Linked DNA regions of Homo sapiens. The protein of the gene in region 3 interacts with the protein of the main gene of each other region in a pairwise test. Each region holds a gene or a part of one and is shown on either strand. Other genes may lie near its edges. The genes, in order: TLE2, MEIS1, EMX2 and GTF2A1L.

The links.
Region 1: the proteins of EMX2 (region 3) and TLE2 interact in a two-hybrid assay, tested with the Homo sapiens proteins (one large-scale study listed by BioGRID and IntAct).
Region 2: the proteins of EMX2 (region 3) and MEIS1 interact in a two-hybrid assay, tested with the Homo sapiens proteins (one large-scale study listed by BioGRID and IntAct).
Region 4: the proteins of EMX2 (region 3) and GTF2A1L interact in a two-hybrid assay, tested with the Homo sapiens proteins (one large-scale study listed by BioGRID and IntAct).

Annotation. Positions count from the first base shown.
Region 1 is NC_000019.10:3,020,161-3,026,280, forward strand, and holds part of TLE2 (transducin-like enhancer protein 2), read right to left. Parts: intron 4,923-6,120; coding exon 4,860-4,922; intron 1-4,859.
Region 2 is NC_000002.12:66,437,020-66,443,139, reverse strand, and holds part of MEIS1 (homeobox protein Meis1), read right to left. Parts: intron 5,404-6,120; coding exon 5,177-5,403; intron 4,054-5,176; exon of another isoform or gene 3,451-4,053; intron 3,298-3,450; coding exon 3,156-3,297; intron 2,916-3,155; exon of another isoform or gene 2,810-2,915; intron 2,579-2,809; coding exon 2,528-2,578; intron 1,727-2,527; coding exon 1,676-1,726; intron 239-1,675; coding exon 92-238; intron 1-91. UniProt on the Homo sapiens protein: Acts as a transcriptional regulator of PAX6. Acts as a transcriptional activator of PF4 in complex with PBX1 or PBX2. Required for hematopoiesis, megakaryocyte lineage development and vascular patterning.
Region 3 is NC_000010.11:117,545,746-117,548,378, reverse strand, and holds part of EMX2 (homeobox protein EMX2), read right to left. Parts: coding exon 2,563-2,633; intron 315-2,562; coding exon 147-314; 3' UTR 1-146. UniProt on the Homo sapiens protein: Transcription factor, which in cooperation with EMX1, acts to generate the boundary between the roof and archipallium in the developing brain. May function in combination with OTX1/2 to specify cell fates in the developing central nervous system.
Region 4 is NC_000002.12:48,644,079-48,650,198, reverse strand, and holds part of GTF2A1L (TFIIA-alpha and beta-like factor), read right to left. Parts: intron 5,167-6,120; coding exon 5,082-5,166; intron 3,747-5,081; coding exon 3,157-3,746; intron 1-3,156. Other genes in the region: STON1-GTF2A1L protein, read right to left, coding at 3,157-3,746, 5,082-5,166. UniProt on the Homo sapiens protein: May function as a testis specific transcription factor. Binds DNA in conjunction with GTF2A2 and TBP (the TATA-binding protein) and together with GTF2A2, allows mRNA transcription.

The DNA.
Region 1 (6,120 bases), on a different chromosome or scaffold from region 3:
GGGAGGTGGAGGTTGCAGTGAGCCGAGATCGTGCCAATGCATTCCAGCCTGGGTGACAGAGCGAGACTCTGTCTCAAGAAAAAATATATATATATTACAAATCACAGTCTCTCCTTTGGAGCATCGAAGAACCAAAGACATCTGGGGCTGGATTGTTCTCTGGGGCGGGGCTGTTCCAGGCACTACAAGGAGCCGAGCAGCATCCCTGGCCTCCACCCACTCCATGCCAGGGGCACCCCCAGTTGTGACAACCACAGACGTCTCCTGGTGGTAAAACTACCCCCAAGAAAAAAAAAACACTGTGATAAATCGGCACCATGGACCCTTCTCCTAGGTTAAGGAACAGAAAGTACCAGACTCCAGGGGCCCCCTACACTCCCTGCCATCAGAACACCCTCCCTCCTCCACCTTCATGACAATAATTTCTTTGTTTTTCTGTATAATTCTGCCTCCTACGATCGCCTTCCTAAACCTGCGTGGATTTGTCCGTTTTCAACTACGTTGTGGGCTCATTCTCTGAGTTCTCTTTGGCATCTGGCCTCTCAGCATAACATTTTAAGCTTCTTCCATGATGTGGTGGGTGGCGGCAGCATATTCAGCTTTCAGAGCTGTGGGACTCTGCTGCGAGAAAATGTTATATCTGAGCCGGGCGCGGCGGCTCATGCCTGTAATCACAGCACTTTGGGAGGCCAAGGCAGGTGGATCACTTGAGGTCAGGAGTTCAAGACCAGCCTGGCCAACATGGTGAAACCCTATCTCTACTAAAAATACAAAAAAAATTAGCCAGACGTGGCGGCGGGTGCCTATAATACCAGCTACTCGTGAGGCTGACACAGGAGAATCACTTGAACCCAAGAGGCACAGGTTGCAGTGAGCCAAGATTGCACCACTGCACTCCAGCCTGGGAGACAGAGTGAGACCCAGTCTCAAAAAAAAAAAAAAAAAAAAAAAAAAGGGGGGGGGGTGCTGAGCGTGGTGACTCACACCTGTAATCCCAGCACTTTGGGAGGCTGAGGCAGGTGGATCACGAGATCAGGAGTTCGAGACCAACCTGACCAAGATGGTGAAACCCCATCTCTACTAAAAATACAAAAATTAGTCAGGCATGGTGGCATGCACCTGTAATCCCAGCTACTCGGGAGGCTGGGGCAGGAGAAACACTTGAACCCGGGAGTTAGAGATTGCAGTGAGCCAAGATCGTGCCATGCACTCCCGCCTGGGTGACAGAGCGAGACTCAGTCTCAAAAAAAAAAGAAAGAAAGAAAATGTTGTATTTTTGCTGTTCCACACAGAAGCCACTGGCCATGTGTGTGGCCACCAGGCATTTGACATGTGGCTGGTGCAACTGATGAATAGAATGATTAATTTTATTAAATTTAAGTGAATACAAGTTTAAATATAAAATAAATTTAATAGGCTTATTTTTATTTTTACTTTTTTGAGACGTAGTCTCACTCTGTTGCCCAGGCTGGAGTGCAATGGCATGCTCTTGGCTCACTGCAACCTCCGCCTCCCAGGTTCAAACAATTCTCCTGCCTCAGCCTCCCAAGTAGGTGAGATTACAGGTGCGCACCACCACACCCAACTAATTTTCATACTTTTAGTAGAGACGGGGTTTCACCATGTTGACCAGGCTGGTCTTGAACTCCTGATCTCAAGTGATTTGCCCCCCTCAGCCTCCCAAAGTGCTGGTATTACAGGTGTGAGCCACTGCGCCCAGCCTAAATATAAATTTAAATATAAAATTAACTTAATAGATTTCAGGTCGGGCGCAGTGGCTCATGCCTGTAATCCCAGTACTTTAGGATGCTGGAGTGGGAGGATTACGCTAGTCCAGGAGTTTGAGACCAGCCTGGGCAACATGGTGAGACTCCCTCTCTGTTACATTATACATATATACTTATTTAAGCCGGAGTCTCACTCTGTCGCACAGGCTGGAATGCAGTGGCGTGATCTCGGTTCACGCTAACCTCCGCCTCCCAGGTTCAAGCAATTCTCCTGCCTCAGCCTCCCGAGTAGCTGGGATTACAGGCACCTGCCACCACACCCAGCTAATTTTTGTAAAAAAAAATTTTTTTAGGCCAGGTGCGGTGGCTCACGCGTGTAATCCCAGCATTTTGGGAGGCCGAGCCAGATGGATCACCTGAGGTCAGTAGTTCAAGACCAGCCTGGCCAACATGGTGAAACCACCCCCCCACCCCATCTACAAAAATACAAAAACTAGCCGGCATGATGGTGGGTGCCTGTAATCCCAACTACTCGGGAGGCTGAGGTGGAAGAATCGCTTGAACCCAGGAGGCAGAGATTGCAGTGAGCTGAGATCGTGCCATTGCACTCCAGCCCGGGCGACAGAGCAAGACTCTGTCTCAAAAAAAAAAAAAATTTTTTTAAGGAAAAAAATAATAGATTTAAATATTATTAATAGTTAACCTAAGTGTAAATGATCACACGGGGCTGGTGACTGCCGTGTAGGATAGCGGAACAGTAGTATATTCCACTGTATGCACTCTGAGGCTGCTTGTGTATACACGCTCCTGAAGACAGACATCTGGGCTGTCTCCACCAAGGAGGTATCAGGATGCGGATACAGAGCTCCCATGGGGGTGCACCTGTGTGTGGGTGTGTGTAGGATGGGTTGGAAGACTTTCTAGAAAGGGCCAGAGAGTGAAAACATTTTCCCTCTGCAGGCCAGAGGTCTCTGTTGCAACTACCAAACTCTGTCACTGTAATGGGAAAGCTGCTGGAAATGATATGTACATGAGTGGGCGTGGCTATGTCAATAAAACTTTATTTGCAAAAACAAGTGGAGGGGTGGAGCTGGCCCTCGAGCTGCAGTTTGCTAATTCCTGGAAATGTGTGCCTTACTCATTCCTTTCAACAGTCATTTTACCTAATCTTTTTTTTTTTTTTTTGAGACAGAATCTCGCTGTGTTGCCCAGGCTGGAGTGCAATGGTGCGAACTCGGCTCACTGCAACCTCCACCCCCCGGGTTCAAGCAATTCTCCTGCCTCAGCCTCCCGAGTAGCTGGGACTAGCCCAGCTAATTTTTGTATTTTTAGTAGAAATGAGGTTTCACCATACTGGCCAGGTGGGTCTCAAACTCCTGACCTCATGACCCGCACGCCTTGGCCTCCCAAAGTGCTGGGATTACAGGCGTGAGCCACTGGGCTCGGCCTACCTAAACTTCTTGCGGCTCTTGCCTTTCTCTAGACCACCTCGTCCCCACTTTCCGCTGCAGATGCTCTTTATGTTCTGTGTCTACACAGGACCTCTCCCCACCCCAAGCTTCCAGAAATCTCAGACTCAGTGGAATCTGAACAAACTGAGCATCTCCCCTCTGGGTTTGGTCCTCAAGGCATCAAGGATCCTCCCAGTGTATCCACTCTGAAGTAGAACTATCTTTCACGTCTCTCTGAAGAGAGAACGTACCACACAGAAACAGGGACAGTGCAGGCTGGGTACAGTGGCTCACACCTGTAAACCCAACACTCGGAGCCTGACACGGGCGGATTGCTTGAGTCCGGGGGTTCGAGACCAGCCCGGGCAACATAGGGAGACCCGTCTCTACTAAAAATACAAAAATTAGCCGGGCGTGGTGGTGCACGCCTGTAATCCCAGCTACTCAGGAGGCTGAGGCATGAGAATCGCTTGCACCCAGGAGGTGGAGGTTGCAGTCAGCCAAGATCATGCCACTGCACTCCAGCCTGGGTAACAGAGCAAGAATCCATCACACACACACACACACACAAAAGAAAAGAAAAAGAAAAAAGAAACAGGGACTGTGCAAAGGTACTGAGGATGAAAGGAACCTGGGGCACTCTCAGAAGAGCTAACTTTTTTTTTTTTTTTTTTTGAGATGGAGTCTAACTCTCTCACCCAGGCTGGAGTGCAGCGGCGCAATCTCTGCTCACTGCAACCCCCGCCTCCTGAGTTCAAGCAATTCTATTCTCCTGCCTCAGCCTCCCGAGTAGCTGGGATTACAGGCAAACACCACCATGCCCGGCTAATTTTTTTTTTTAAGTTTTAGCAGAGACAGGGTTTCACCATGTTGGACAGGCTGGTCTCGAACTCCTGACCTCTGGTGATCCACCTGCCTCAGCCTCCCAAAATGCTGGGATTACAGGCAGGAGCCACCGCACCTGGCCGAATTACAGTCCATTTTAACCATTTGTAAGTGCACAGCTCAGCAGCATAAAGCACACACACGGTTGTGCAGCCATCCCCAGCACCATCTCCAGAATTTTCCCATCTTCCCAAACTGAATTTCTGTCCCCATAAAACTCTCACTCCCCGTCCCCTCCCCAACCCCTGGCACCCCCCATTCTGCTTTCTGTCTCAGTGAACCTGACGACCCTGGGACCTCCTAGGAGTGGATCACCCAGTGTTTGTCCCTCAGTGACTTCTTCTAGCAAGACGGTAGGGTTAACTTTCATCAGGTGCTGAGTAAGCGTACCCATCATCTCCAGCACCCTGGGTGTATGAGCTCATCTCAACTTCACACCTACGCTACTGAAAAAACAGAGACAAGTGTCCTGCCTGAGGCCACACAGCCAGGATTCAGACCCAGGCAGCCAACTTGCAGGGCTTGAGGGGGTCAGCTCTATGCCTTGCTTCCCATCAAGGGGGAAAACAGCCCCCAGTCCTCACCCTCAGCCAACACCTCCCTCCATCCCTGCAGCCCCTGCCCCAGCGGGATGCCTGGCCTCAGGGCTGCGGGACTACTGCAGTGAAAATGGTCTCTATCCGTGCTGCAGGCTACGCGGCAGAATCAGTGCCTGGGGCGTCCTCGCCCAGACCTACCCCCTCCCGTCTTCTTCCGGCTCCCTTCCCCTCCTCCCCCCACCCCCAGGCCCACTCACCTCCTGGGTCAGGAAGGGGATAATCTGAGCGCAGATACCGCTCAGACGCTTCACAATCTCCGCCTGGCAGGAAGCAATGAGAGGAAGCTTGGAGCGGGGTAGAGATTTGCAACCCAGCTCTGGACTCCCAGGCGGACCAGGTGTTGGCAAAGCCGAAGGGTTGGGGAGGTGACGCCCGCAGGTGCACAGAGGGAACTCAGGCTAGCATGGCATGGGCCGAGGTGGGATTCAGAGCCCCACCAGGCTGCGTGCTCAGCTGAGCGAGGCCCAGGGTGGCCTGGAGCTGGGAAGACCAGGGCTGAGGTCCTACGAGTCACAGATACACCACCCGCCAGACGCACACCCGCCAGGGATTTGCAGGAGGCAGACGCTCAGACACCCAACTCAGACGCAGACACTCAGAGGTGCTGGGCTCAGCTGAAACAAAGGAAAGGGGCCTCCGCCTGGAGTCCCAGATTCCAGCCCCGGCTTGGCCCACGTCTGTCCCAGGCAAGGCCCCTTTCTTGGTCTCCTCCGCTTCCCAGGACTGATCTACCAGCTGGGGATGCCTCCAGGTGGAGATCTCAGCACGCCACACTCAAGGGAAGGATTTCATCTGGAGAGGGTCTGGGCCCAGGTGCCCCAAAGAGGCTGAGCAGACGAGAAGGCGTGTGGGTGGGGAAGGGGGCGGGCATACAATGGCCACGGACTTTGCCTCTGCCTGAGTTACAGGTGTGCTGTGTGTCTGGCGAAGTCTGTGTCTCCTATTCCCACCAGGAGGGTGGAACTGGGATCCCAGGGTGTCCCGCACCCCATAAAGGGGGGTCTATTGCGTGGACCCATGGGACCACGCCATGCTTCAGCAGACAAGCCCCCTCCTGCCCACATCAGAACCAACAGAACCCCCACACATGCAGGAAAGCATGCCAGGGTGGGCAACCCCAGGCACCCCACACTCCCAGCCCACCCCCTTCTCCTTCCCAGCCACCGGGAAGTCCCAATACAAGGTTCTGCTCATTGATTCTAATATTCTGATAGAATCTAGGAGCCCATGAAGCTCAGAAGTTTGGGACCCCTCTCATCCCTTTAGAAACCACTGGCCAGTCTCAGGATCTCAGGATTAAGCATGGACCACTAAAGTCAATTTTAGAATCTTTGGGTCTATTGGCCGGGCAAGGTGGCTCACTCCTGTAATCCCAGCACTTTGGGAGGCCGAGGCAGGTGGATCACCTGAGGTCAGGAGTTCAAGACCAGCCTGGCCAACATGGAGAAACCCCGTCTC
Region 2 (6,120 bases), on a different chromosome or scaffold from region 3:
AAATAATAAAAGGAGGTGGTAGTGACCCAGCAAGCAATATGCATACAGATTTTTTTTTTTCCCAGGGATGTTGAAATTGAAAAGCGCATACCTGGTCAGTTAGATTTGCTGATCTTGTTATATCTTCACTGTCTGATTTTGATCCTCCTTCTCTATCGTCTATCACCAAATCGATAGGCATTTTCCCTTTCAAACAGCTAATATACCGGTGGCAGAAATTGTCACATAATTCGTGTACCTACATTATGACAGAAATAAAAAAATGGGAATATAATCAGGAGTGCATAAATGACATTGACAAGTGCAATCCACCCCCCTTGTGAGATCCAAACTTCCAAATAGGGGAAACACAGGGCAATTGTCCTCCAGAGACCCCCAGACGCATCCAGAATTAGGAATAACTTTCTTTTCTTGCAAAATAGAGATATCCCAGAAAATTGACAGTGACAAGATGATTCACAGGCTACAACATATTCAACACCCGTGTTAAATTCATCTGCTCCTGGGGCTGTGGTCATTAGAGAGGTGACCTGCGTAGGTGACATTTAAGGTAAACTATTTAATTTCATCCAGTGACTTTATCATAAATCCCTTTCTAATGTGTCTAAGAAAAAAATGTATACGTGTGTATATATGCACATATATATTCTCCAAAGAACCTGTACTGTGGTGGCATAGGATAAATGCCTGACAACCCAAGTCCTTATTATATTTGTAATGAAGGTTTTTATCTCTAAGGGGTATATTTTAGAAAACTTTCTTTGAAAAAAAAATGGAAGGAAATCAAGTTGCCAGTACTCCTGATATGGGAAAACATACAGCCACACAAAAACATATCAAATTGATTTTTTTTTTTTTTTTTTTTTTTTACAAAAAGGAGAAGGAATGCCTCAAAATATTTAAGTGTAAGTGCAGAGGTTTCCTAGAGGTCCCAGGCATCACTGACATGCAAAAATTCACAAGAAACCCCAGTGTGCTTGCAATTTAATGTTAGTTTGAATTACAATGCATTAAGTTTTTATTGCTGAGATTTATAGAACAGCTAGCAAAATCATGTTATCCCACACCCTTTCTTGAGTGTGAAGGTGGAGTGTGTGCAGGATTCACAGATTCAAGAAATTGACACAACTATCAACTCTGCTTTGTCTCTGCAAAACGTTTAATGTGCCTCCCCACCACCTCCTCCAGACTCCTTCCCGCTCCTCCTCCTTCTCCCCTTCTGCCTCTCCCCTGTGTCTGATCTGCCCTTGCTCTCAAGACTGTCTTCCAGAAACTCACTACAACTGAATAAAACTTTTTTCTCCCTCAGAGGTAGCAAAGAAGAGAAGGAAGAGGATGAGAAGAGACAACAGAGGTATGAACTTGTGAAACAACCTCAGAGCAGCATTCGAAACATCAGCTGGGATGCACAGAATTGCAACTATTTACACAAAGCCAGCAAGTTATTAAGAATGAACACAAGGCTAGGGCGTTTGTGATCCCAGTTTTAGTGGCTGAAATTGTAATTAAACTGCGAAGAGAAATGGACGCTAAGATTGGCCTTGACACTAATTACCAGAAAGAAAGACATTTATGCAAATGTATCAGAAGGCTGAACTTCAGCCATTCGGAACCCTCCCCCCTGTGTGTTTGGGGGTAAGGGGTAAGTAAAAGGAAAAGAGGCTAGAGAAATTACCTTCTCTAATTCCAATAGATGAAACCTTAATACTTGTATGGCTTGAATCATCTGCAAAGATACAAAAACAATAAGCACCCCATTCCTGGCTTGCAGAAAACTGGCTGCCACAGCTCTACCATCTCCAGCCCACCCCCTCCCACCAGTAAATAGAGTTATTTTGATTTATGGCAATAACACTAAAACTTAATAGCAGCAACTGGGTACCATCTAGAGGTTTATATTTCTTAAGAAAAAAAAAACTAGCTAAAACAACAACACAGCATCTAAGTGAGGATCATAAACACTCTCCTCCCCCATGGCTCTCCCCTTTCTCAGTCCCACTGGCCCCACCCCACCCCAAAAGGGCCACAACACTGGACTACATGTGTCCTTGGAAGGAGTGGACAGAAAAATATTCCAAATGGCCCTCAAACTGTGGCTTTTCCCATTGCAAAGTTTCTGCTGCCTTCCTTACACCTTTCAGGCAAACTGGTTGTTTGGGGGCTCTTGTCCGGTGGCTGCCCTCGTGATGGGACTTAGAGGGCTAGGAAGTCCGCAAAGTTTAAGCACACATGCTGACAGGCCGGGAGATAAATCCCCGCGCTGATTAGAGCTGCGCAGCCCGGCTGTCATAAAAAACAAAAGCTCGCGTTTCCCCGCGCTGGCTCGCCCGGCCCCTCTCGAGATGAATTTATTTCCCCGGGATCTTGTCCCGGACCAGTTGTCCGTGTACAGAAACATTTGCAGCCAACCTGCAGGCACGGGAAGACCGGTCTAGAAATCTCAGGGCTCTCAAAGCAAAGCTGAGGGCGTTGGAGGTGGGAGGTAGGGGGTCGGGGGCGGGGGAGGGAAATAGGGGTCCGCTCTTACCAAGTTATCCAGTTCTGGATTAGAAGAAAATAGAGGTTTTTCTGCGCGAATCTAAATACAAGTGAGAAGGAGAGGGGAGAGGGAGGGGAGAGAAAAAAGAAAGAAAAATTTGAAATCTGGTCGCCTTCCTAGTTTCTTGCCTCATTACACTGTCGGGGGCAGGAAGTAACCCTCCGGGAGGGACCCGGTGACACCGAGTTCGTCCCGCGCAGAAACATTTCAGTGTGAATTAAATAAGCTGAAAACAAGCCCAGAGCTCAATCTTACTTCTACTAGCAACTACGGCTCTCGGGGAGGCTGCTCAGACCGCCGAGTCCACAGCAGCTACAACCGTGGTGTTCTTGATTTTATTCTGCAGAGTGAGCTCTCCACGTTTGCTTTCTGGAGGGTGAGTGGGGATGCAGATGGGTGATTTTAAGTTATCTGCAAACAGACACTCAGACAGAGAGAAAATCTGAGGTTGGAGGTAACATGCATGGCTTAAGGCCGACTACGTGCTGGCTACTTTTGAAAGTGTGCCGTGTGTGTGTGTGTGTGTGTGTGTTCGCGCGCGCGCGCGCGCGTGTGTGTTGGCGAAGGGGGGGCTCTCTTTTTGTTTCTTTTACTTTTTAACATCTATTTTGCTGACCTGTTTGGCGAACACGGCTATATCTTCATTGAATGACTCTGACGAGCAGACGTCCCCGCCCGCCACCCCCGGCTCGCGGGGGGTACAAGTAGCTAATTCACATTTCTCAAAAATCAGTGCTAAGAGAGGGAAGAGGGGGTGTCTGCAAGAAAATACAACAGTCACAAACAACATAATGGTTAGTCCCCAGTCAATGGAAAAAGGTGCCCAAGAAAAACAGCTGGAGGAGCAAGAGGAACAGACCCCCTCTCCGATTGTGTCATCTACTTTTTTCCTTTTCCTCCCCCTCCCCCAGACCCAGGTGACCGCTCACCTCCCCTTCCTCCTGGAGCCCTGAAGTCGGAGGCCCTGAGCCATGGACGGTATCTGAGGATCGGTTTAGCGTATCTGGCCGGAGAAATTGGCAACATTTGCTACGAATAAAACCCAAGCGTTTCCAGCAGCCATTTTGAATTAAGTTTCCCACCCGACAAGCCCTCGTCCCCTCCACTGCACATCCAGGATCCGGTGGAGGAGAAAGGCGCCGGGCGGAGAGTTGGGGAGGGCTGGTTCCTGCGGGTTCCTCCTAGGCGGCCGCGCGAAGCCCAGGCTCGGGGGATCTCGGTGGCAGGCGCTCAGCTAACTTGGGGAAAGGACGTCCATGGCCGTGGGGCCGACTGTCAACGGGCTGCACCTAGGGATCCCAACCCCAAGGCCCTCGGAGAGCCGGGAGGCTCCTCCTCAGCTCCACGCACATTCCCCTCCCTTCGCTGATAGCCCCCACCGCCCCCCAAAGAAAGTTCCTTCAAATGTTCCTGCAGTAGAGCCTTTCATTTTGTCTCTGCGAAGTGGCAAAGCAGCTAGTATTGCGAGGGGCCTAGATGTCGCTTGTCTCAGCCCATAAAAAAGAAAAAAAAAAAAAAAAGAAGAAGAAGAAGAAAGAAAGAAAAGCTTCTTCTAATGCCCAAGGAGGTATCTCAAGTCTTTTATTAGCTCTCACAGCTCAGCTGGGAATTTAACAGTTTGGGGTCCTTTACAAAGCTTCCCCAAATGTTCTGTCCCAGAGCCTAAACCACTTGTAGTTAACTCTGCGGACAGAACGGTGGGAATTAAACAAGCCCATCGCACAAGGGATCAGAAAATAAAATAAAAAGATTATATATATTTTTTTTTCCAGCGAGGGAGGGTCAGTGTGTCCTGATTTTTTAAAAATAAATAAATAGAAATAAAAGTTTCTGCAAAGTAAAAAGAGGTTCCCAAATTCATCGGCACACAGTAGGCACAAGTGAGTTTCAAAGGATTCTACTAGCCCAGGGTCTAATCGAATGGCGGAGGAGAAAGCAGTATAAACCGCAGCCAGAAAACAACCTCCGAGGAAGAGCACCCCGAATTTACTTATTTCTAAATCCTGCAGGTTTCGCCTTTGAGCACAAAGTGCTAAAACATCTAGAAGTTTCTTAATGTGTGTAACAATTCAGAGCAAGCTCCTCTCCTTGACTTCAGTGGTCAAACTCCCTAAATGCAAAACATGTTCCCCCTTGCTTGACCTGCAACTGTCCTGCTTTGGTTTTATTGTGCAGTGGCAGAGCCAGCATAAGGCTGCTGAGTAAACTCAGCAAGTCAGAACAATCAGTGGCTTAAAAGAGATTTTCCCTTAAACTAAAAGTTTCGTTACAACACAAAGGCGCCTGCATTTAGAAACCCCTAACGCTCTCGGGCGAAATCGAGCGAGGGAGGACTCCAGCCCGCTGAAGGAGTCTGAGAGGGGACAAGGGCCCTTTAGCCAGCTTCTTCTCATCTGGGACCCCCTTGCGGGCACTGCCATGGTGGAGCAGGGCACTGGATGTGCACAGAGTGTGTATGGGGATGTAGGGCTTCAGGGATGGCAGGCCACCTCCCCAAATTATCCATGAAATGTGAATGAAAAGTCACCAAAGATGTACCTCCAATCCAGAGAACTCTGACTTTCCTCTTACCAAGGGCACAGAGAAAGAGGGAAGCGTTGAGTCTCAACTACTTAACCTGCTGCCCATTGTACCTACCCATAAATGGCATCTTTATCTCTCTTTAAAGCGTCATTGACAGAGGAGCCCATGCTGGGGGCCATGGCGTTGGTATGAGCTGTGTGCGGGTACTGATGCGAGTGCAGAGGAGGCCCGTGGTTCAGGTGGTGGACCGGCTGCATGGACCTGGCTGCATGCGGGTCCCCATACATCGTGGAGGGGATGCCTACTCCATCCATGCCCCCGTAATGGGGTAGATCGTCGTACTGCATGACAAACAGGAGAGAAAGAAGGTTCAGGAGGCCAGGCGGGCAAATGGGAGAACGGCAAGGCACCGAGCTTATATAAGGTCAATACAGCTGGGTCCTTCCACCCGGAATTCGGTGGCCTTGCATCTATAAAGCTGAGTTTTTCTTATTTTAAAATTAAAGCTTTAAGTAAAAAATACAGAATTCTCAGCGAGACTCGTCTGGGATGAATGATCTTGCCCTAACTTGTGTCCCTATCAACTAGTTTAGAAATTCAGGCTCCTTTGGCAAGAAGGAAAGAAGAAAGAAAGAGAGAAAGAGAAGCATTCTCCCGAGGGTAGAAGGTGAAACGGGCATGTCTCTGGAGGAAGAAATTCAAAATCACAATAATAAAACGTGCCAGGACACTGCAGCAAACCCGCCTAGTTTCACAGCCCCTTCACATCAGGGGGAATTAAAAAAAAAAAAAAAAGTTACGATGGGAACAGCTACGCAAAGCACGTGAATTTAGACAGGCTTCTCATTTTATTTCCCTGCCAGCGTGAGGTTAGGCAGTCCTACAAGACACTGCATTTCTTTTGCTTTCCAAGACAAACTCTGCTAAATTATACAAAACTAACTGACCCCTTATAAGTGAAACTCAAAGGAGGGTAGCTTTTCCTGAACATCAGAGCTGAATTTAGAATTGGGCAATTCCCCACCCCCAAAGTTAAAGAAAATCTATAGTTGAAGCAG
Region 3 (2,633 bases):
ATTCCGCTGCTCCCTCCGATTCCCTCTCCCTTTCTCGGTGAACGTGTATGCGGTTTGTTTTTGTTTTGTAGGGTTTTTTCCTTCTCCACCTCTCCCTGTCTCTTTTGCTCCATGTTGTCCGTTTCTGTGGGGTTAGGTTTATGTTTTTAATCATCTGAGGTCACGTCTATTTCCTCCGGACTCGCCTGCTTGGTGGCGATTCTCCACCGGTTAATATGGTGCGTCCCTTTTTTCTTTTGTTGCGAATCTGAGCCTTCTTCCTCCAGCTTCTGCCTTTTGAACTTTGTTCTTCGGTTCTGAAACCATACTTTTACCTGCGGGTGAGAGGCAGATGGGGTGCGTTAGTTCTTTCAGAGCACCCTTCTATCAAGTGCCTGATCCTTTCACCCAGCCCAGACTCCAGTTCCAGACTCAGCAAAGACCCAGCCCCCGAGATGCAAGTCCTAAGGTCCAGCCTCCCCAAGGCCTGCCCTCAGGGAGCAGGGCCGCTAGTGCGTGGTGGAACAGAAGCCCAGCTCCCTGCCCTTCTGAGGCTTCCTGAAGAGCCTTTCCCCAGGGCCCTGTGGCCCGGAGTGCACTGAGCCCCATCTCTCCTGGCCCTGCAGAGGGCATCTATATCCCGCTGAGAGCAAAGCCTTGCAAAGCATGGGAAGCCCCTACAAAAATAATAAGTGATTAAAAGAAAAAGAGACATGTCCCTAACTCCCTCCAGCAAGCGAGTGCAAGAGAGACCTCAGTCCGCCGCTGCTGCAGCTCCCCTCAGGGCCCAATGTGCTTTCTATTTTCTGCTGGTCTGGGCGGCGTTTCCTAAATATAGCGTCTCCTCTTCGTGGCGGGGGCCCTGGGTAGGCGATCAGGGTTTGCCTGAGCTGCATCCTCCGTGCGGGGGACTCTCACAGGTGAGCAGGAAGGGGATGGGGCTGGAGGAGGCCAGGAGGGACATGGAGTGTGTAGGCCTCCAGACCAACCCAGCTGTACCTTTATAGCTAGGAAAATGAGTTCAAAACTGAAAGCTTCTGAAAGACCGTGGGTTACACGGAAAGTAAGAGAAACTAAGAGAAGGGGAGGTGACAGCAAGCCCCCTCTTCCCTCCTTCTAAACAGCCCCGGAACAGGCTGCTGGTCACACAACCTCGGACCCCAGTCCCATCACTTCCCACCAGGGTGGGGCTGGAGGCCCGGCCTCACCAGAGCGGCTGTGAGAGGTCTCAGGAGCAATGAGGTGGGAGTCGGCTGCCATCCCACGGCCCCCTAGGAAAGCTGAGTCGTGGGTCCTCATTTAGCCACCAGACAGTAACACAGTCCAATCTTCACAGCAGTGGTGTACAGGTAAGGGAGATGGCAGTGACTGCACCTCTGATACCCTCCCCCCACAACTCCTATTCTATCTGGATAAGAGTACCCCACAGCCCAGTGCCAGTCCCTGGACCCCTGGGATCCATTCCATTCCCTCCTTTGAGGCCGCAGGCCGGTCCGTCTTGCTCTCCCGGAAAGCCACAGTCGCCCAAAGTGCTCCATGAAAAAAGCTGAGCGGGAACAAGGCTGAATTTAATTTGCTTTGAGTTTGCTAATTGAGGGGGAGGACGGTTCATTTCTCCCCGGCGCTGGCCCAAGGCGCGCGTCGGTGCGCTCGGGGCTTGACACGCACACAAAGACTCCAGGCAGCGTGGGCAGCGAGGCGGACAAAGACCACCGCCGCCTCGGCTGTCCAGGAGAAATCAGCCGGGCCGCGCCTTGTGCCGGGCTCCGCACAAACCCGCCAGGCCCTCCTCGGTTTTGGGGTGGGGAACATGTTTTAAAACAAAAGCCTCGACCTTTCTGAGCTGCCCAGGAAAAGTGTTACAACTTAGTCTGCCCAAAAAAACGTTACTGTTTGCTGGGAACTTTGACCCCGCCCTGCGGCTCCGTGTACAGTAGCGCCTAGTGTAGTCCTAAACCCCCTCCCCACCCTGGGATAAACCCAAGCCAGGCCCGCCCAGGGACCCTGCTGTGCAGAAGGCCTGTGCCCTGAGGCAGACCCTCTCTGCAGCCTCCCAACTTTACTTCTCTGATATAGGGTACACACAGGACGCTTGCCCTCTACCTTCCCATCGCCCATCTCCTTCAGGGAAGTCACTGGAGCCGACGGTGTGAGCCGTGGGCTCACAGTCGCTCAGAACTCATCTTTAACCCACATCCTGTCCTTACCAGCCTCCAGCTCCAAACACCCAGAAACCCCACTGTGCTCTCCCTCTTCCTGGACCCCAGCAGGGGTCTTCACACTCTCATCAAAAGTCTCACCAGAAATGCAGGGATGTCTTAGCCAGGACATGCCCAACTGGACAGAGAAACAACTCGGCGCGTTTCCCCAGAACCTGGGGCAGATTGGCACTTACAGCCCCTTTCTGGAGCCCAACAAAGCCAGCACCTTGAGACATACATCCCGAGCCCAGGCGTGGAACCAGCTACCAGGACCTGTGCGGAAGGCCCTCACAGAGCTCCGTGCTCATGGGTGTGCTTGGGAGCCAGCTTTGGGGAGGGGGCGCACGCCTAGATGGGTTCCTCGCGCCCGGGCCGCAGTCACCTGAGTTTCCGTGAGGCTGAGGCTGTGTGCCAGCTGCTTCCTTTCGGCGCCCACCACGTAGTGATTCTTCT
Region 4 (6,120 bases), on a different chromosome or scaffold from region 3:
ATATATTCTTAGATTACTGCATATACAAAGATAAATGTAACTGTCAATGCAAAGAGAACATATCAATGTATCTTTGAACTACATTATGACAGACATACTTCAGGTGACAAAACAGAAGAGCTACATCCAATTTAATAATGAAGGAAAAATTAGGTGGAGAAGTACTGAAGATTTCTGGAGGAAGTAATGAATAAGCAGGAATTAACCAGAGGAAAGGATGGTGGGAAGAAACTCCAGGCATCAAATAGAGGGGATAACAAAAAGCAAAAAGAGAAGTAGGAAATAACAAGGTTGAAAACCAAGAATCACTCACGGTTTGGTGTTCCCAGTAAAGTATATTCATGTGAGGAAGGAAGAGTAAATAGGAAACTTTGGCAGAGAAAGAACGCGTAATATGCTTTGTATATGTATATTAAGGTGCCTGAAGTTTATTTATTATAGGTGAAGGGCAGTCGGTGATGTGTTAAGTGGAGAAAAGACACAACCAGGCTGCATTTGGGACAGATCTCTGGAAGCCACCAGGAAGAGAGTGCTAACATGCACTGAGCATTTACCACGGTGCCAGTGTGCTGCTGAGCACTTTACATTAATTTTCTTAACTAATCCTACCACAATTACATGGTAGATACTATTATCTTTATTTTACAAATGAGTAACTTCTCTAAGTCATACAATTATTAAGGAATAGAGAAGGGATTCAAAACAATTCTGATCCCTGAAGCTTAGGCCTTTGACCTCTAGGATGGATGGATTGGCAGGAGCAGAGTAAGAGGTAGAAGAGACTACACACTGATAAATTAGTTAGATAAAATTATCCCACATGAGAAACAATTAGGGCAATGGCACTAGGAGTGGAGATGAAGGAACAGATTCCAGGAATATTTACAAAATTTAAAAATTGTCAAACTCACATGATTCAGCCTTAAAAAGGAATGAAATTCTGACACATGCTACGATATCGACTAACCTTGAAAACATTATACTAAGTGAAATAAGACAGTCACAAAAGGGCAAATATTGTATGATTCCATTTTTAAAGTACCTAGAAGAGTCAAATTCAGACAAAGAAAATAGAACAGAAATTACAAGGGGCAGAATTAAAAGCTATCAAGAATATATTTTGTGAAACAGAATGTTCAAACAACATAGATCCTTACCTCTTAAACCTATAGATCCATAAGCTCTCCAGTAGTTTACAACACAGGAAAAGTAAACAAGTATAGTTGATTATAACTTGCTTTAAGTTACTTATAAAAAGAAAAACTACTTGTAAAGTCTTTGAAAATTAGTTCAGCATAAACCTACCAAACTGCTTACTATCTTAAAGGTAACTTACAATAAATAAATAAGCATTTTACATATACTCTTGTACGTTTGGATTTTGTGTGTTAGACATAGACCTTTTTTAAAACTAACAAACAAGTTACATGAAAAGTTACCCAATATATTACAAGCTCATAGAGCATAATAGCACTAATCTAAAGCTTACTATGGTGCCAGAAGCTTTAAATACTTCATATATATTATCTCTGATAATTCTCAAAATTACAAGATTGGTATTAGGGGCCAATTTAAAGACTAAAATTGAATTTCAGGGAGTAATGTTATATAGTTTGCTTGCAAGTAGTGAACCTAGAATTTGAACCTACTGTGGTTCCAAAGCTTATGTTCTCAACCACTACCCCCAATCAATCCTTGATTAATATCCCTTAACTAATCTATTTCCCCATATCAGAAAAAGTACATGATGACATACAATACATAACAGTAGAATAAGTCCTTGACTCATCACACCAAACATCTGCAAAATTCACACAGAATCCAGGTAAAAAGTGCCTCCAAAAGTAGTAGTGATGAAAACAAACATTTTACATTTGTAGTTAGTTTTACCTCAAAATCAAATGTTTCATACTTATTAGTTTAACCTACATTTATTTACTAAGTGTTATATGTTATGTTAAAAAACGTAAAAAAAACCTCAATAAAACATTTTAATATGAACACTTATAGAAAAACTAAAAACAGATTTGCTCAGAGATCTTGAACAGGTTTCAATAAATATCTGAAACATTCTAAAACAGGCCAAATAGTTTCTGATTGTCATTTTCTTTGTTCCTGGCCTTTCACTATGCCCTATGTCTTTCCCTAACTAGCAAAATTTAAATATCATGAAGATAAAATATTAAGGTTGTGCTTAACTATCCATTGCTACAGATTTGTACAGTGGGTCTAGATGATGGCTAAACCACTAGCTGGAGCAAAAACCTTTAAGTATTTTTCACATGTCCTAAATTGTGTAAATAGAATTAGCCACAAGATGTATTTTATATTTGTAAAAAGAATGCAATTTTTTTAATTTTTATAATCCAAAATTCTCCATGAGTCTTTCTGCCATTACTATGAATTCCTTGAAAATTAAAAATTCAGACCTATTTTCAATATCAAAAGTTAACTAGAAGCTAATTTTTAGTGGTTTCAATACCAAAAGAAATTAAGTAAAACTAGTATTTTAGTAGGCAGGGAGAAACAAAATTACTAGCAACATAATCCCTCATGTAGGGAAAAGTTTCCATATAGGAATTCAGAAAAATTAGGTAGAGCAGGAAAAAAAAAACTTTGTGGGCTTCTTTTGTATATTACATTTGATAATTAATTATCTCAAAACATTCCACAAACTACTGGTCTGGATTTCTGGGTCTTTTAATTTTTATCTGCAGACATAAAATAAGTTTCCCAGTATAAGAGACTGGTAAACAGATTACCTTTTAAAACAAACGCATTTTCTCTGAAGAAGTATTATAATTCATTTATTGAAATGAAAAATTTAGAAATGCTAAGCATGAATATTTCAAGGACTGACAGTTATACTAAAAACAACAATAAAGAAAGAATCTTCTTGGTTGTACCACATGTGAATGTATATAACACTACTGATCTGTACACTTAAAAATGGTTAAGTTGGTAAACTTTATGTTACGTGTATTTTATCACAATTAAAAATTTTTTTAAATCACTAGAAAAAAGAAATAATCTTCTAAAGAAAAAAACAAAATATATATAATTCTGATTAACATTACAGCTTGAAAATATTCAGGATATCCAGTTACTGGCCACTATCTGTCCCCTGATACCAAGAAGTTGGACACAGAACTATACCTTCTCTGATACAGGTATGTTGCTGGGTTCCTCTATATTTCTTGGTTGCTTTACAGAATCACATCCATACATCCTATTTTTAAGAATATGAAGCTGAATATCAGTCACGTGCTGGTGGAGAGCCCCATGAGGGCTTGTGGAGAGGGACTCATCATGCAGATTTTGAGCCATGCTAGCTGAACCACTGAGCACTGACTCCACATTAGAATTTGTTTGAGAGACCTGTGGAGAAAATACAACACCTGGAAGACTGATATAGTGAGAACTTTCCTGATGACACAACAAAGCTTCAGGCACGATTTTATGCTCATTTCCAGGAGATACAAGTATATCACTGGTGGCATTTTCTAAGTGTTTCCTATCTACTGGCCCAGAAGGTAGAATTGCGGGTTGCTGTAGCACGGTTTCAATTCTCTGTGATTTTTCAGTAGTTGCTTGAAGAGACCATGGATTCAATTGTGGAACACTAGTTTGTATTACTGAAGGCTGGCCAAGCTGTTGAAATACTTGCTGAATTGGATGCTGAAGAATACCTGCTCTTCCAGAAGTCTCTGTCACCATAATTGGTACATTGACTTTATAAAGGTGACCTTAAAAAGGAGAAAGCAAAATTGTAAGTATAATAGAATTAAAATTTCCTTTGACAACCACCACAAAAAAAAAAAAAAATCTCATCCACAAAGGCTGGAAAAAAATACACCAATATGTTAATGGTGGTTATCTCTAGGGGTTTTTCTTTTATTCTTCAGACATTTTTGGATTTCTACAATCAATATATAAATTCTTATTTTTTTAATTACATATGTTTTGCTTTAATTCCAGACTTTTCCCACAATTGCTTTTATGGCACACTTTGAGATACATAAAGGACACCAATATTTAATCCATGAACCTCTTCCATTGTTTGATAAATTAATGTTATCAGCCAAAAAACTGGATTTTAACAAACATAATCATGTAAAATATACTTCATATATTTAAAATGCCATATAGCAAGACAATGCTATCCAAAAGAGAGTTTAATGATTTCAAAAGTAATCAAATTTCTTCTCCTTTCTTCCTCTAAAATAACACTATAAAAGAAAAAAAAAAAAAGGCCAGGCGCGGTGGCTCATGCCTGTAATCCCAGCACTTTGGGAGGCCAAGGCAGGTGGATCACGAGGTCAGGAGATCAAGACCCTCCTGGCTAAAACGGTGAAACCCTGTCTCTACTAAAAATACAAAAAATTAGCCGGGCGTGGTGGCCGGCGCCTGTAGTCCCAGCTACTTGGGAGGCTGAGGCAGGAGAATGGCGTGAACCCAGGAGGCGGAGCTTGCAGTGAGCAGAGATTGCGCCACTGCACTACAGCGTGGGCGACAGAGCGAGACTCCATCTCAAAAAAAAGGACTTATTTTTGAGTGTTGAGTTAGGTGCTTTACTTAAACTTTACAACAACCCAAAGAAGAGGTATGATCCTCTTCAAAATCAAGAGATGGTGCTCGGAAAAGCAGAAACCGGTTAACCTCCAAACTATTGGATGTCCTATCAGACCATGCAATCCCTAATAAGAAAGGGGGCAAAGGTTGATCATCCTAATCTTTAATCCGTAATTAGAGCTAGCAGGAATGCAGGTAAGTTATTTTATTTTGTATTTGTTAAAATTTAGATAACTGACTTGAATTAGAAAAAATATATACAAAGAACCCCTATACAATGTTGGGAAAGAGAACTGGGAATCAAATATAGGACAGGCCTAGTACAGTGCCTTTTGTGGTAGATTGTCTCTATAACAATCAAAACCACCATTTATCATTACTTTTAAAATCAATTTTATTAAAAGTTCTTATAACTTCTGGTATATAGTTTATTTAAAAATCATGAAGCTTAATGTCCAAAAAATAGTACCAATGCTGAAAACAAAAAGATTCTTAGAATATACTCTCACCAGATACAGTCTGTAGTGTCACACCTGCTGGTACATGAATGGGATAACCAGGAAAAGTAAAGTTTGCACTGGAGTTTGAAGTGCCCTAGATATAAGAAATTTATATTAGAAAGTTAGAAAAGGACTTTACTTGTATCTTTTTTTCCCTGATCTCACAGGGAGTCAAAAAATCTGATTCTGGACAATAGTTTGACAATACTTAACATTTAATATTAGGGCTGAGTTCTTTGAATAAAATAGTTTTCAATATCGATCATCCCATTAAGGATCAAGAGGAATCCTATTCTACAGTTATTAGCAATGAAGCTAGTAAGTCCTAATGAACAGTATAAACATTAACTCAAAAAACTTGCCCAAGACATAGCTTTGCAGGGCCATTGGTTCTCAGACCTGCAAAAATTTGAAAGACTGATAACATCCAGTGTTGTTGAGAATGTGATAAAAATTGGTTCTCTCAAACTACTGTTTGTATGAATGTATATTGGTACAACCCTTTTGGAGGATAATTTTTGCAATATATATACCAAAAATGAAAATACAAATGACCTTTGACCCATGAACTCTACTTTTAGAAATTTATCCTGATTATCACAGAAACACACAGACATATACACAAGCATAATCAATAGAATACTATATTAGAAAAATGCTGGAAATAATTTAAATGTTCACCAACAAAAGTTTGTTAATTAAACTGTGCTGCATCCACGAAGGTCAATTTGTACTAACTGAAATTGAAAGCAGTCCATCTATATTACTAAATTAGAAAACAGAAATTACAGAAACAGTAAAAAGAGTATCCCTACTTTTTATCCTAAAAACTAATATAGCTTTCATGAAAGAAGTCTGGATGAATAAACATCAAAGAGTTAAAACATTTATTCTTGGAGTATAAGACTACAGAACTCTTTATTTTATTTATAAATGTTTTGCATTTTTATTTTTAAGAGACAGGGTTTCATTCTGTTGCCCAGGCTGAAGAGCAGTGGTGCAATCATAACTCACTGTAATCTCCAATTACGAGGCTCAAGTGATCCTT